4 linked regions of the Homo sapiens genome follow. The protein of the gene in region 2 interacts with the protein of the main gene of each other region in a pairwise test. Each region holds a gene or a part of one and is shown on either strand. Other genes may lie near its edges.

Region 1 (3,127 bases), on a different chromosome or scaffold from region 2:
AGGCTATGGGAGCCCTCACTTCACTGCACTGTACTCCTCGGTCCCTTTCCCTGAGGGGGAAGCCTTTCCCCCTGTCTCCGTCACCACTCTGGGCTCTCCCATGCATTCAAACTGAGGTGCCTGCCCTTCTAGGAATGGGGGACAGGGGGAGGGGAGGAGCTAGGGAAAGAAAACCTGGAGTTTGTGCCAGGGTTTTTGGGATTAAGTTCTTCATTCACTAAGGAAGGAATTGGGAACACAAAGGGTGGGGGCAGGGGAGTTTGGGGCAACTGGTTGGAGGGAAGGTGAAGTTCAATGATGCTCTTGATTTTAATCCCACATCATGTATCACTTTTTTCTTAAATAAAGAAGCCTGGGACACAGTAGATAGACACACTTATCTTGGTTTGTCCTTCAGTTACTGAGGTAGGGATGGGAATATCCAATGCTCATACCCAAGTGACCCTGAAACTAAGGTGCCATTTACACTCCTTAAGGTCACACAACATCAGAGGGAGAGCTGGGATTGCAGCCAAGTTTATTTGTACAGGGCCCTGTGATAGGCTAGTTCCCAAAAGCCTGTGATGCAAGAACTTTTGCCCATAGACTCAGTCACCATGTAGCTGTTACCTGTTCAGAGCTGGCTTTTTGCTTTCCCACCCTACTCTGGAATTCTTAAATGGCTTTATACTTAGAAATCATCTTATTTCTGTTGAACCTAGATCACCCCAACCAGAAACTTCTATTAATACTTTGTGCTTTCTTGATACCAGGGTCTATTTGGTTTCCACTTAAGGTTTTTGCATACTCTGCCCATAAGTGACTCATTAGTTACTCAAGTTTTATTCCTGGCTCTGCCACTAGTTCATTAGGGGTCTTTGCCCCAGAGTCATTTCTTCCATTTTAAAAACTTGGGCTCATTAAATCTAGGTAGGAAAGGGCGGGTGTGGCAGGTTTTAATAGAACAGGTCAAGATAAGGCTTTATTTCTATAGAAATGATGCTTTGACAATAGTTTGGCTTGGTGTAAGGCTCACAAAAGAAAATCACATGTACCATGTGTGGGTTAAGCGGTTTGATTCACACTGAACCAGGCCAGCCCAGTTGCCCTCTGCTGTGTCCACCCGTGGAGTGGAGCTGTGTCACAGCCATCACACTGGTAAACTGCTGTAGCTGGTTTACCAGGCTTTCTCTTGCCCTGACAGTACAGGTGAAGCCTGTAAATAAATCTTCTGCTATCTTTGTGAACTTAACCAAATCCCAGTTACCTTATTTAAATGGCAATAGATCTGTTTTCCCTTAAACTAGAAACCTTAATTACCTGTATTCCTACCTCCAGCTCAACCCATATATTTGCACCTTTCCAGTAAGCAGGTTTGTATTTCCATCTCTCCCCTTCCCCTAAGATTCTGAATTAGTTCTCCAGACCTTGCCAAGCACATTCTCCCTGGAAAGCAAGGAATATCACAGACCCACAAGAAGAGTAAATGCCCAGGAGTGAATGAAGCGGCTTGTCCTTGACTTGGAAATAAAAGCAAAGCTGTGAAAAGCCAGGTCGCTACGATTTTGTTGGCAGCAGGACTAGCCACAGAGTAGGGAAGTTTTGGGGCCAGGCCCTAGGTTTTCCCAGAATGCCTTGGGTGATGCCACCAAGAACCTTAAGAACTCCCTCTTACATTTTCCATCGGTTGCAGGCATGGCTTTTGCAACTGATAGGTGCTCTGACTACAGATATTCTGGTGTCCATGGCAACATGGCCTTATGGCTTGTAATAGTGGGAACTTCCAGCTCACTGGCAATTTCCTGGAGGTGGCAATATCTTTGGCAGGAAACCATCTCTTCTGTCTTGGCCACCAGGGTCTGCTCCAGGCCCTGAATGAGTCCACATCAATCCATCCTTCTTCCCTGTAGTCATTCCCTCCTGGGGAGGGAAGGGAAGGGGGGTATTTATCAGACCTATTTGCTCGCTGCTGTGTCTACTCATGGGCAGGTGTGTCCGATGGTGCCTTGGCAGTGGACCTTAGGTCTGAATGCCAGCCCGGCACCCTGGGCATCGGAAGTCGGCCTCCCTGGCAGCCTGGATGCTGCAGCCAACACAGGCCACATGGAACCAGACGTCACAGCCATCACACTGAACCCAGGCCACTGTCTCTTCCTGGGGCAGGCAGCAACAAGGAGCTGCACAGGGCTCCCCGCCCCCAACTGCAGGGGGAGCCATGGGAGCGCTCACTGGGTACTTCCGAGGACGGCCACGTCGATTTCTGAAGGAAGTGACACAGACACAAGGGTCACCGGAAACCTGTAGGAGAAGGCCTAGACCTTGCCACCCTATGGCTGGTCATAGGGTGAGGCCACAGAGGCACAGTGGTCTGAGAACTAAGGTGAGCCTGGACTCTGTCCTTAAAAACACATAGGGTGGGCCTAAAAACCTCTAGTATGAGCCTGAAAGTTCCCCATCCTTAGGCACTAGAAGAATGGGGTTAAAGCCATATGAATGTAAAAAGCAGGACATGCTCACTCCGGTTGTTTTATAAGCACTGCCCCACCCCACCTCTCATGTTCTCCTGCACATATTTTTCTTTTCCTATCAGAGCTAACCCAGGTCTTGCCATTCCATCTATTCCACCTCCCGTGCCCATCCCCCCAGGCAGGGGGACCTCCTCACAGCCTAGGGATACAAGGAATCGAAAAGCAGTAAAACACTGAGAGGGCCAAGTGAGGACTCCACTTACCCAGTGGGAGTCAGTGGGGCTTTGTCTACACGGAGTTTCTTCCTGGGCTCCATAAGGACCGGTGGCGGGTTCTCAGGAGGCTCACTCTCATCATCCAGTTCCGCCAACACTCGGTGAACAGATTTCCTCCGATTGCGTTGTGGTGGAGCAGAAGGCGTGGTCCCCATTTCCCCAGGTGGGGCGGGAACAGGCAGGCTCTTTGGTCCACCCCAACTAGGGGAGAAGGTGAGGGGCTGGGGCCGGAGCTTGCTGAGGCTGCCTATGGAGTTTAGGATCAGTGTGGCCTTGGGGGCAGGGGAGAAGGTGCTGAGAGGCCGCTGTGGAGCCCCCTGGGAGGGCAGCATAGGCCGGAAACCAGCCCCAACCCGGGCTTCTCCCCTAGACCGTGGGATGGTAATGGCAGCAAAGTCCTGAGGC
Region 2 (3,500 bases):
CTGTCTAGCTGTCTGCTGCCCTATACACAGCTACATCTCCAGTGTCTAGAACAGTGTCTAGCACATTTTGACATCTATTTAGGATCCATACATATTTCTGACTTTAATTTCTTTTAAGAGACAGGGTCTTGCTCTGTCACCCAGTCTGGAGTGCTACTGCATGATCATGGCTCACTGTAGCCTCGAATTCCTGGGCTTAAGCGATCCTCCCACCTCAGCCTCCCCAGTAGCTGGGACTACAGGAATGCACCACCATGTGCAGTTAATTTTTAAAAATTTTTGTAGAGATGAAGTCTACCTATGTTGCCCAGGCTGGTCTTGAACTCCTGGCCTGAAGTGATCCTCTTACCTTGGCCTCCCAAAGTGCTGGGATTACAGATTAATTAGCCTGGCTAAAAGTTTTAATAGTGCAATTTTAAAGAGAAAATTAGAAGCAATTTATTTATCAGATAATAGAATAAACTTATGTTTTAGTCACTAGAAATTATAAATATGACAGTGGAAATATAAGAAAATACATATAAAATAATGTTAAGTTTAAAAAGGAGAACCTGGTGGGGCACAATGGTCCATGTCTGCAATCCCAATGTTTTGGGAGGCTGAGGCAGGTGGATTGCTTGAGGCTGGGAGTCTGAGGTTTCAGTGAGCTATAATCACACCACTGCACTCAAGCCTGAGAGAGTGAGATGCTGTCTCTAAAAAAATAAAATTTAATTAAAAAAAACAAGCTACTACCCCAAAAAAGTAGAGCCCAAACATTTACTTTATATGTCACATAAATATATGAATAACATGATTAAAACTCATGTATACCACTTTGGGAGGCCGAGGCAGGCAGATCACGAGGTCAAGAGATCGAGACCATCCTGGCCAACATGGTGAAACCCTGTCTCTATTAAAAATACAAAAATTAGCTGGGCGTGGTGGCACCCACCTGTAGTCCCAGCTACTCAGGAGACTGAGGCAGGAGAATTGCTTGAACTCGGCAGGCAGACGTTGCAGTGAGCCAAGATTGCGCCACTGCACTCCAACCTGGCGACAGAGCGAGACTCTGTCTGAAAAAAACAAACAAAAAAACCCCTCACGTATACACATAATGTATATGTGTGTATACACCATTTATTTAAGAGACAGGGTCTTAGTCTGTAACCCAGGCTAGTGTGCAGTGGTACAATCACAGCTCACTGTAACCTCAAATTCCTGGGTCAAGCAATCCTCCCATTTCAGCTTCCCAAGCAGCTGGGACTACAAGTATGTACCACCATGCTTGACTAATTTTTTAAAATTTTTGTAGAGACAGGGTCTCACTATGTTGCCCAAGCTGGTCCTAAACTGCTGGACTCAAAAGTGATCCACCCACCTTAGCCTCCCACAGGGCTGGGTATTTATTTGAGTAACATCAAAGTTGGTTCTCACTATGTGGTTTCAGGTATATATACCACCCATGACACATGTCAGAAGCTAGAGATTAGAGGGAGATGAGAGTTTACAAAAGGAAGGAAAAAAAGTTTAAAGAAAACAGGGCAGGACATTGTTTGCCTGAGGGAGAAGCACTAGCGTCTAACCACAGGTCTGTAAAAGGAACAATATGACAGGCAGGGTGGAGTAAAGGGTGGTGTATGTAATCAAGGAGAACCATTCCACAAGTGCCATCCCGGCAAGTCAGCAGATAATGAGAACCTCCAAACTAAAGACTGGCAAGAACTAAACATGGATGGCAAATCCAATGTGAAGGAATGAAAAAATCTGCCGATCTTTTAAGACCCAGGAAGAAAGTAATTCATCAGAGACCTGACAGTGGAATTAGGGAAAAAAGCCTCTCCAAACACACTCTAAAAGTGGCAAGCACTTCTACCCTGAGAGAACAGAGCAGAAAAGACATAAGCAGCAAGCTTTCAATAAACGCCTGCGAAAGAACGTTAAAATCCCATCCCACTGAGGTTGCACTTTACTCTTTGATCTTCTTCAGCTTTATCCTGTAATTCTTTTTTTTTTTTTCTTTTTTTGAGATGGAGTCTTGCTCTGTTGCCCAGGCTGGAGTGCACTGGTGCGATCTGGGCTCACTGCAAGCTCCTCTTACCGGTTCACGCCATTCTCCTGCCTCAGCCTCCCGGGTAGCTGGTACTACAGGTGCCTGCCACCACGCCCGGCTATTTTTTTTTTTTGTATTTTTAGTAGAGGCGGGGTTTCACCGTGTTAGCCAGGATGGTCACGATCTCCTGACCTTGTGATCCGCCCGCCTCGGCCTCCCAAAGTGCTGGGACTACAGGCGTGAGCCACCGGCCTATCCTGTAATTCTTATGCTGTCTCAATAAATGTTCATCGTATTTCCTAAACTAGACTACAGATTCTGCTAGGAAAACAATCTTGTCTTTATTTTCTTCCTCATCCTTTTTGTGAACCTTTGAGTGCTAATCTAGAAAGTAATAAATGGTAATTTTCTAAAAATAGAGTGCTTTCTAGGATCAACAGGTAAATATACTACTATGAAAACAAACACACAAAAAAAGAGAAACTCATAAGTATTTACCTGTGTGTTCACTACTTCTTGAGATAACGTTTGATTGAGTGGTGGATACATTTCAAGTTTTATATTTAAAATTCCCACAGAAACTTTTGATTCTGTGCCTATAAACATAAATATTTTGAACTTCAGAGATTTCAATACTATATATATTTAGTCAACCAAAGTCTAACCAAAATAATTTAGGCACTTGGGTGTTTTATCACTTACATGGAATAAAGATAACATTCAACATTACCTTTAATATTCATATTAAAATGAACCAAATCAATTTTTTTAAACAAAGGTGTTTAATTATAAGGAGATTATTTTCTTAGCTTTCTGACACTCTTTTTCTTCTTTAAGTAGAGATGGGGTCTCCCTATGTTATTCAGGTTGGTCTTAAACTCCAGGGCTCAAGTGATATTCCTGCCTCAGCCTTCCAAAGTGCTTGGTGGGATTACAGGCATGAGCCACTACACCTGGCTTTTCTAACAGGTTTTAAGAAACTTTTCTGACTTAAAGGATTTGAGACTCTTAATTTTTGTCTTAATTAAATGTATAATATCAACCAGACTTACATTAAATTCAAAGTCAAAGCAACTGTTAACACCTCATTCCTTCTCCACACACACACACACACACACACACACACACACTAAAAATTAGAAAGCATTTATATTGTCACTTATAGTAACTCCCATTTGTCACTCCCCATTATCCAATTACAGGCTGAGTAGAAATTTTCAATCCATGCCTGGATTTAAAGAACTAGAAAACAAATATACTTCACATCAAAACGATTTAATGTTTCTTCAGTGAATCAGAATCTGCTTGTTTCCAGGTCACTGCTACGATTATCATGTTAGGCCTATTTTTGAAGACAAATTGGGTATTGTTTTTGAAAATAAATTTCTTACATAAAGGACACTTTTTCTATAATTTTTATTTAAAGAAAAATACATTCTTGGTATGACTTATTAAAATCTAAATTACT
Region 3 (2,418 bases), on a different chromosome or scaffold from region 2:
GTGGCTTCGTGGGTCCTGCTTCTGAAGAGTTCCCAGCCTCCCCTCTTCCCGCACCCCCAGCCCCCAACACGCACACCCTGAGATCTGGAGTGCATGGGTTTTATGCCAGTCCCTTGTGCCACTGGGCCGCCCTCCTTCCCCGCCCCTAGACCAGCTGGTGTGGCGGGCGGCCCGAAGCAGCGGGGCAGCTCCTACTTACTTCCGACCCAATGGGCGCTTCCTGGACGGTGGGCTGCTGGCCAACAACCCCACGCTGGATGCCATGACCGAGATCCATGAGTACAATCAGGACCTGATCCGCAAGGTGAGTGCCGTAGGCCAGAGGGCCTGGACCCACTGCTCCCTGGAGCCAATCCTGTGTCAGCAAACCATGCTAGGGACCGACCCCCAGGACAGCAGGTGGCTTTTACACACGCACTCATTCATATGTGCACACAGGGCAAATTGATCTCACTGGAACCTGTTCCATGGGTGGGATCTGCCTGAAGCACTGTGCTAAGGGGGATCTGAGGACCACTGTGCTCTAAGTGTGCATGAGTGGGGAGGGCGGCATGCATACCATGAACGTGCCACTCGAGCCAGCCTGGGGACAGGACACATGCTTGCCCTTGAGCTCACCTCTGTGGATAGACAGTCCCACAGGAATGCCTGTCCCCACGGGTTGCCGGTGCTGTGGTGGAGGACCGTGAGGCCTCTGCTAAAAGGCCTGGGGGCTCGGAAAGGGCTCCATGGAACAGGGGACCCATCCTGAGGCCCTTGGGGACAGAGCAGTGCAGAATCAGTGATCTGGAGGAAGAGCAGCAGCCCTCTCTCTGCAGAGGTACAGCAGAGGCTGGCAGGACCCAGCATGCTAGGGGAGGCCCTGTGGCGTGGCGGGCGGTGGGTGACCGGGGTGGGCGAGCGCGGTGGCTGAGCTCAGACCCTGGAGCCAGGGCGCCTCTGGGGGTCCCCGTTCTGCCTGCACTCACTGCAGCTACCTAATGGGGCCATCATAGCGCCTGCCTGGGGAGGCTGCGAGGCCTTGGCATGCTGTTGTCTGTGAAATGTTCACAGCACTGCCGGGAGCCTGAGCTGCATCCTTGCTGCTGTGGTTTCCCGAAGCCCCAGGGCGTCCTGGGCAGCGCAGCAGAGGCTCTGGGCAGACAGAGAAGCGCCCTCTAGGGGCCAGATCGGGCAGGGCGGGCTTCCTGCAGGCGGCAGAGACCGTCAGACTGTCAGACACTAGCCAGTCTAACTCTCCTATTGCGTGCGGATGGGGAGCCTGGGACCCAGAGTGGGAGGCATCACCCAAGATCATCCAGCAAATCGGCAGCAGAGCTTGTTCGGAAGCAAATAAGAGAGGCAGCGGCCGGGCGCAGCGGCTCACGCCTGTAATCCCAGCACTTTGGGAGGCCGAGGCAAGTGGATCATGAGGTCAGGAGATCGAGACCATCCTGGCTAACACGGTGAAACCCTGTCTCTACTAAAAATACAAAAAAATTAGCCAGGCGGGCATAGTGGCAGGAGCCTGTAGTCCCAGCTACTCGGGATGCTGAGGCAGGAGAATGGTGTGAACCCAGGAGGCGGAGCTTGCAGTGAGCCGAGATCGCGCCACTGCACTCCAGACTGGGAGACAGAGCGAGACTCCGTCTCAAAAAAAAAAAAAAAAAGGCAGCACCCAGGGCTCAGGTTCAAGCCTTAGCCCCTACTTCCCTACCACGTGGCCCCTGCAGCTGCTTCCCGGCCTGAGCTTCGCTGAGAGCCCTCATTTGCAAACTGGGTGATCAGTGCCCTCTCCACAGACTGGCTGGAGATTAAATGAAGTAATGATGCAAATACCTGGCAAATCACCAACACCAAGGAACACCGTCTGCCTTTCCTCCCCTGGCCACGACTTGACTTGGGCCAGCATCAGATGGGGTGGGCGGGATCCTTCTTGCAGCTGGTGTATGTGTGGTCCTGTTGGTACACAGATGCTGTCCTGAGCAGATGGCATGTGATGCCCGCACCAGCCGTTCTGGGGTCACGTGCAAGAGGCTGGCTGGAAATCATGCCAGGCATGCTCTTGCCACCAGAGACCTCTTGCCCTGTTCTCATGTGCCCCAGAGCCCAGTCTTGGGCCTCCCCTTGACGCTCCCCTTCGTGCCCCCTACCTGTGGAAGGTCTCTTCTGACTGCCCCTGTCCTGTTCCCAACAGGGTCAGGCCAACAAGGTGAAGAAACTCTCCATCGTTGTCTCCCTGGGGACAGGGAGGTCCCCACAAGTGCCTGTGACCTGTGTGGATGTCTTCCGTCCCAGCAACCCCTGGGAGCTGGCCAAGACTGTTTTTGGGGCCAAGGAACTGGGCAAGATGGTGGTGGACTGTGTGAGTGTGGGCCCCTCCCCCAGGCCACTTCCCTCAGGGTCTGTAGCCCAGGTCGATGGCTTCCCCTCATCCTG
Region 4 (4,178 bases), on a different chromosome or scaffold from region 2:
GACGGGGTCTTGCTCTGTCACCCAGGGTCAAGAGAAATGGCATGATCTTGGCTCACTGAAACCCCTGCCTCCAGGTTCAAGCAATTCTCCTGCCTCAGCCTCCCTAGTAGCTGGGATTACAGGCGCCCGCGCTACTCCCGGCTAATTTTTGTGTTTTTAGTAGAGACGGGGTTTCACCATGTTGGCCAGCCTGGTCTTGAACTCCTGACCTCAGGTGATCCACCCACCTCGGCCTCCCAAAGTGCTGAGATTACAGGCGTGAGCCATTGCGCCCAGCCTAAAGTCATGCGTTTGATAGAGCTGCATTTCACCCTCTTAAAAGGAAACTGGTGTGGCCACTTTACAGGTCATGAGCAGGACTCAGGTGTCCTCCAGGTCACACGGATGGTAAGAAAGAAGCAGGGCTGGATTTCATCTCAGATGATCTGGTTTCCAGTCATGCTGTTTTCCTATGCTTGTTACACCCATTTTACACACAAGTATGTATGTATGAGGGACCTCTTAGGTCCCTCATACGCCAATTCAGAGGGCAGGGTTTCGGGACAAGAGGCACACAGCAAATTGTACAAGTCCTGGATATTTGGCAAGTGTGCCACAGTTTGCAAAGCATGTTTGCAACTAACAGCTCCTCTATGCTGCCCACAGTGCCATCCGGATTCATCTTCAGGCTTTGTGGACCCAGCAGGCCCTGGCCTAGCCCTCTTCTCCTGCCTCACTTCCCTTCAGGTCCCCTGAGCTCCAGGCCAATTGGGCTACCAGCTCTTTCTTGTACATGTGCCCCAAGTTCCCACCTCTGAACTTTTTCTTAGAATGCCTCTCCTTCCATCTCACTCTGTACATATCTTCCTCATCCTTCAGAGTCTAGTTCAAATGCCTCCTCTAACGGCAAGCCTATCTGGATTGCTTCAACTGGAAGAGAAAGGGGAAAGAGAGAAGGAAAGGAATAGGCATTTCCTGAATGTTTACTCTGTACCAGGCATGTTATGTAACCTCACAACAACTCTGTGATATGGTTTGTTTCTGCCCCATTTTATAGGCAGAAATTGAGGGGAAATGACTCGCTGGAGCTCACATAGCTAGGAAGGATGCTTCTGGACTCCTCATCTAGTGCTCATTCTCCTGCTCTAGTCAGGAACCTTGTGGGGCTGATGAGGGCCAATATTCCACCTCTCTCCTTCTTCGTGGCTGATCCCTGGGGGTGGTGATCTGGTCCTTTCCCTCCCTGCTAAAGCCAGAGCTGCTGACGGCTTGCCATTGGCTCTTCAGCCAGGGCTGGCTTTTGTTTCTGTGGCCCAGTTGCTGAGTCGGGGCTTTGTCTCCCAGGGGCCCCTCTTCCCTCCCTGCCTATAAGAGCCCGACCTCGGCTGGTCTCAGATCTGACATGTTCCCTGGGCCTATCTCGGTAAGTCCCAGGTTTGGAGGAGGGGTGGGATCAGAGTTCTGAGTGAGCATTCTGGGAGGCGAGGAACCCAGGTCCCCAGTCCTAGGGATGTCACTGTGTCATCCTGAATGCCATCCTCATCCTAACCAAGGATGAGCCCCAACCATCAAGACCAGCACCTGCTTCCCTCATTTAAAAACAAATTATTCCTGTAGCCCTATTGCCTAAATTTCCACCATCAGAGCTACCTCTTTGAGCTAGGTGCTGTCTTTGGAAGGGCTCTCTTATGCTGAGCATTTCAGCACTCGCTGGGGTGATGCACCCACCCACCAGCAGCCACAAAAATTTTCCCATAACAAGCAGATAAGAGAATACAGAGTGGGGCTCAGAGTCAATGAGACCCAGCAAGGGTGAGTTTTGAGATGGGGATAGGATGGAAGATGGCATTGGTGACAGATGGAAAGGACAGGAGAGGGACAGGCCAAAGCCATGCATTGCCCCTAGCCCAGTCACTCCTGGACTCCCTATGTGGATCCTGACCAGGTCCAAGCCAGCCATCTGCATAAAGAGGAGAGCAGAGGGTCAGGGTGGAAGATTATAATGTTCTTCTCTTCTGCAGGAAGGGGCCACAATGACCCTGCAATGCACAAAGTCAGCGGGACCCTGGAAGGTAGGAAGAGGCATGGGGAGGGGGTGTTCAGGGGGTATGGGGAGGGTTCAGGTCCCCATGAATCCTAGGAGGGGGGCATTATAAATGCCTATTTCACAGAGGTGCAATCAAGGCTCAGAGTTGAGAAGGGACTTGTATGTCACATACAGGGAGGTTGAATGTGAATTTGGGTCTTCTGGTTCCCAAAGTTGACCTGTTACACTCTTTGGCAGAGGTTGCAGTCTTTGGGCATGATTTCTTTGACCATCTCTGTGTGTGTTTGTTTGTTTTATAAAGCTTTTGGATTTATCATCAGCCTTTAAAAGCCTGGAAGAACCACATAAAAGTCCAGATCTAGTGATTGTCTTGAGAAATTGGAAGGTCTGGCCTGCATTCCCACTTGGCAACCATTGGTGGCACTGGGAAGAGGCCACCCATTTACCTGGCACCTGTGCTGTCTAGTGTCTCACATTTATCACTGCTCTTGCCTTCCTGGCTCCTGGAGGAATCTGAGTTTGCAATCCCTGCTTTACCTGCCAGATCCTGGGGCGAGCCCCCAACCTCTCACCCTTCACGGGACTCTGATGCGGATCTCCACCTTTTTTTTTTCCTGGCACAGATGGTGGTGTGGGATGAGGACGGCTTCCAGGGCCGGCGGCACGAGTTCACGGCCGAGTGCCCCAGCGTGCTGGAGCTTGGCTTCGAGACTGTGCGATCTTTGAAAGTGCTGAGTGGAGCGTGAGTCTAGGGGGACACTGAGTTGGGGTAGAGGGTGGACAGGAAGGGACCTAGAGACGGGTGCTAGGACTTTTAGATATTCTAGGTCCCCTCTCCCTAGGCTCTTACTGTTGTGCCCTCCTGAAGTACTGAGGAGTGTGCAGGACTGCCATGTAAGATTATGCAGGTTGCGCACTGCCCAACAGTAGGAGGGTGCCATTTACACAGACCCTGCCCACTGGATGAGGCAGTTCTGCAGGAGATCCTTAGAATCCAGTGTTGGATCTAAAAATGTCCCTCCCAGCCGTAAATTGAAAGCCAACATCACCCGCCTAAAGTAGAAGGTAACTGTAAAAATAAACATAATGTTTTAATGCTATTAATTTTTAGCTAAATAGTCTTGCTGCTAAGCATGTGGCCTGATCATTTTTTGTAAAAAAAAAAAAAATTAAAAAACAAAAAAGAGAGTGAGAGAGAGAGATTAGTGAGACACAGAGAGGTGTTAAGGACACACTAATAACACACCAAGACTTTCTAGACCAGTGTCATTCAGTGGACCTGTCTGCAATGATGGAGATGTTCTACATCTACACCATCCATTTCAGAGCCACTGGCCAGATGTGACCATTGAGGATTTGAAAGGTAGCCAGCATGAGTAGAGAACTGAATCTTGTTTAATCTTAATTTATTTAAGTTTAAATTTAATTAGCTACATATGGCCAGTGGCTACCATATTAGATAGAAGGTTCTAGAAGGTTGGAAAGCAGGTAGAAAGGAGATGTGGCCAGTAGCTACCATATTGGATAGAAGGCTCTAGAAGTTTGGAAAGTAGTTGGAAAGATGTGGCCAGTAGCTACCATATTGGATAGAAGTTTCTAGAAGGCAGGAAAGTAAATAGAAAGGAGGTGTGGCCAGTAGCTACCATACTGGATAAAAGTTCTAGAAGTTTGGAAAGTAGATCGAAAGGAGATGTGGCCAGTAGCTTCCATATTGGATAGAAGGTTCTAGAAGGTTGGAAAGTAGCTAGAAAGGCAATGTGGCCAGTAGCTACCATATTGGATAGAAGGTTCTAGAAAGTTGGAAAGTAGATAGACAGGAGATGTGGCCAGTAGCTACCATATTGGATAGAAGGTTGTAGAAGTTTGGAAAGTAGATAGGAGATTTGGAGTCACTTAATGCTACACCTGTGAGTGCCACCTGAGGTCATCTTGGGTGATTTTTGCACATCTCATGCTTTAGTAAATACTCTTTTAGCTTCTGATTTGTGCAGGTGGGGAATGGGGGTCAGATGGGAACAGAGGCTTTCTAGGGGTATGTCCAGCAGGCTGACAGACTCAGCCAGTAAGCAGACAATGAGCTTGGATAGATTCAGACAGTTTATTACTTATACAGACAGTAAAGGCAAGGTGCAGCCTCCTGTGTCCCTTGTCC

The links. Proteins that work in one complex are often made in the same cells at the same time.
Region 1: the proteins of CEP76 (region 2) and TCF19 interact in binary tests that used the Homo sapiens proteins (3 or more experiments, as listed by UniProt).
Region 3: the proteins of CEP76 (region 2) and PLA2G6 interact in binary tests that used the Homo sapiens proteins (3 or more experiments, as listed by UniProt).
Region 4: the proteins of CEP76 (region 2) and CRYBA4 interact in binary tests that used the Homo sapiens proteins (3 or more experiments, as listed by UniProt).

The regions. Positions count from the first base shown.
Region 1 is NC_000006.12:31,161,589-31,164,715, reverse strand, and holds the end of TCF19 (transcription factor 19), read right to left. Parts: coding exon 2,711-3,127; intron 2,240-2,710; coding exon 1,999-2,239; 3' UTR 1,900-1,998; coding exon of another isoform or gene 1,890-1,899; 3' UTR 501-1,889; downstream 1-500. Other genes in the region: POU5F1 (POU domain, class 5, transcription factor 1), read left to right, coding at 1-115. UniProt on the Homo sapiens protein: Potential transcription factor that may play a role in the regulation of genes involved in cell cycle G1/S transition. May bind to regulatory elements of genes, including the promoter of the transcription factor FOXO1.
Region 2 is NC_000018.10:12,692,724-12,696,223, forward strand, and holds part of CEP76 (centrosomal protein of 76 kDa), read right to left. Parts: intron 2,629-3,500; coding exon 2,531-2,628; intron 1-2,530. UniProt on the Homo sapiens protein: Centrosomal protein involved in regulation of centriole duplication. Required to limit centriole duplication to once per cell cycle by preventing centriole reduplication.
Region 3 is NC_000022.11:38,113,413-38,115,830, reverse strand, and holds part of PLA2G6 (85/88 kDa calcium-independent phospholipase A2), read left to right. Parts: intron 1-149; coding exon 150-304; intron 305-2,176; coding exon 2,177-2,344; intron 2,345-2,418. UniProt on the Homo sapiens protein: Calcium-independent phospholipase involved in phospholipid remodeling with implications in cellular membrane homeostasis, mitochondrial integrity and signal transduction.
Region 4 is NC_000022.11:26,620,585-26,624,762, forward strand, and holds the start of CRYBA4 (beta-crystallin A4), read left to right. Parts: upstream 1-1,378; 5' UTR 1,379-1,402; intron 1,403-2,000; coding exon of another isoform or gene 2,001-2,012; coding exon 2,013-2,051; intron 2,052-2,649; coding exon 2,650-2,768; intron 2,769-4,178. UniProt on the Homo sapiens protein: Crystallins are the dominant structural components of the vertebrate eye lens.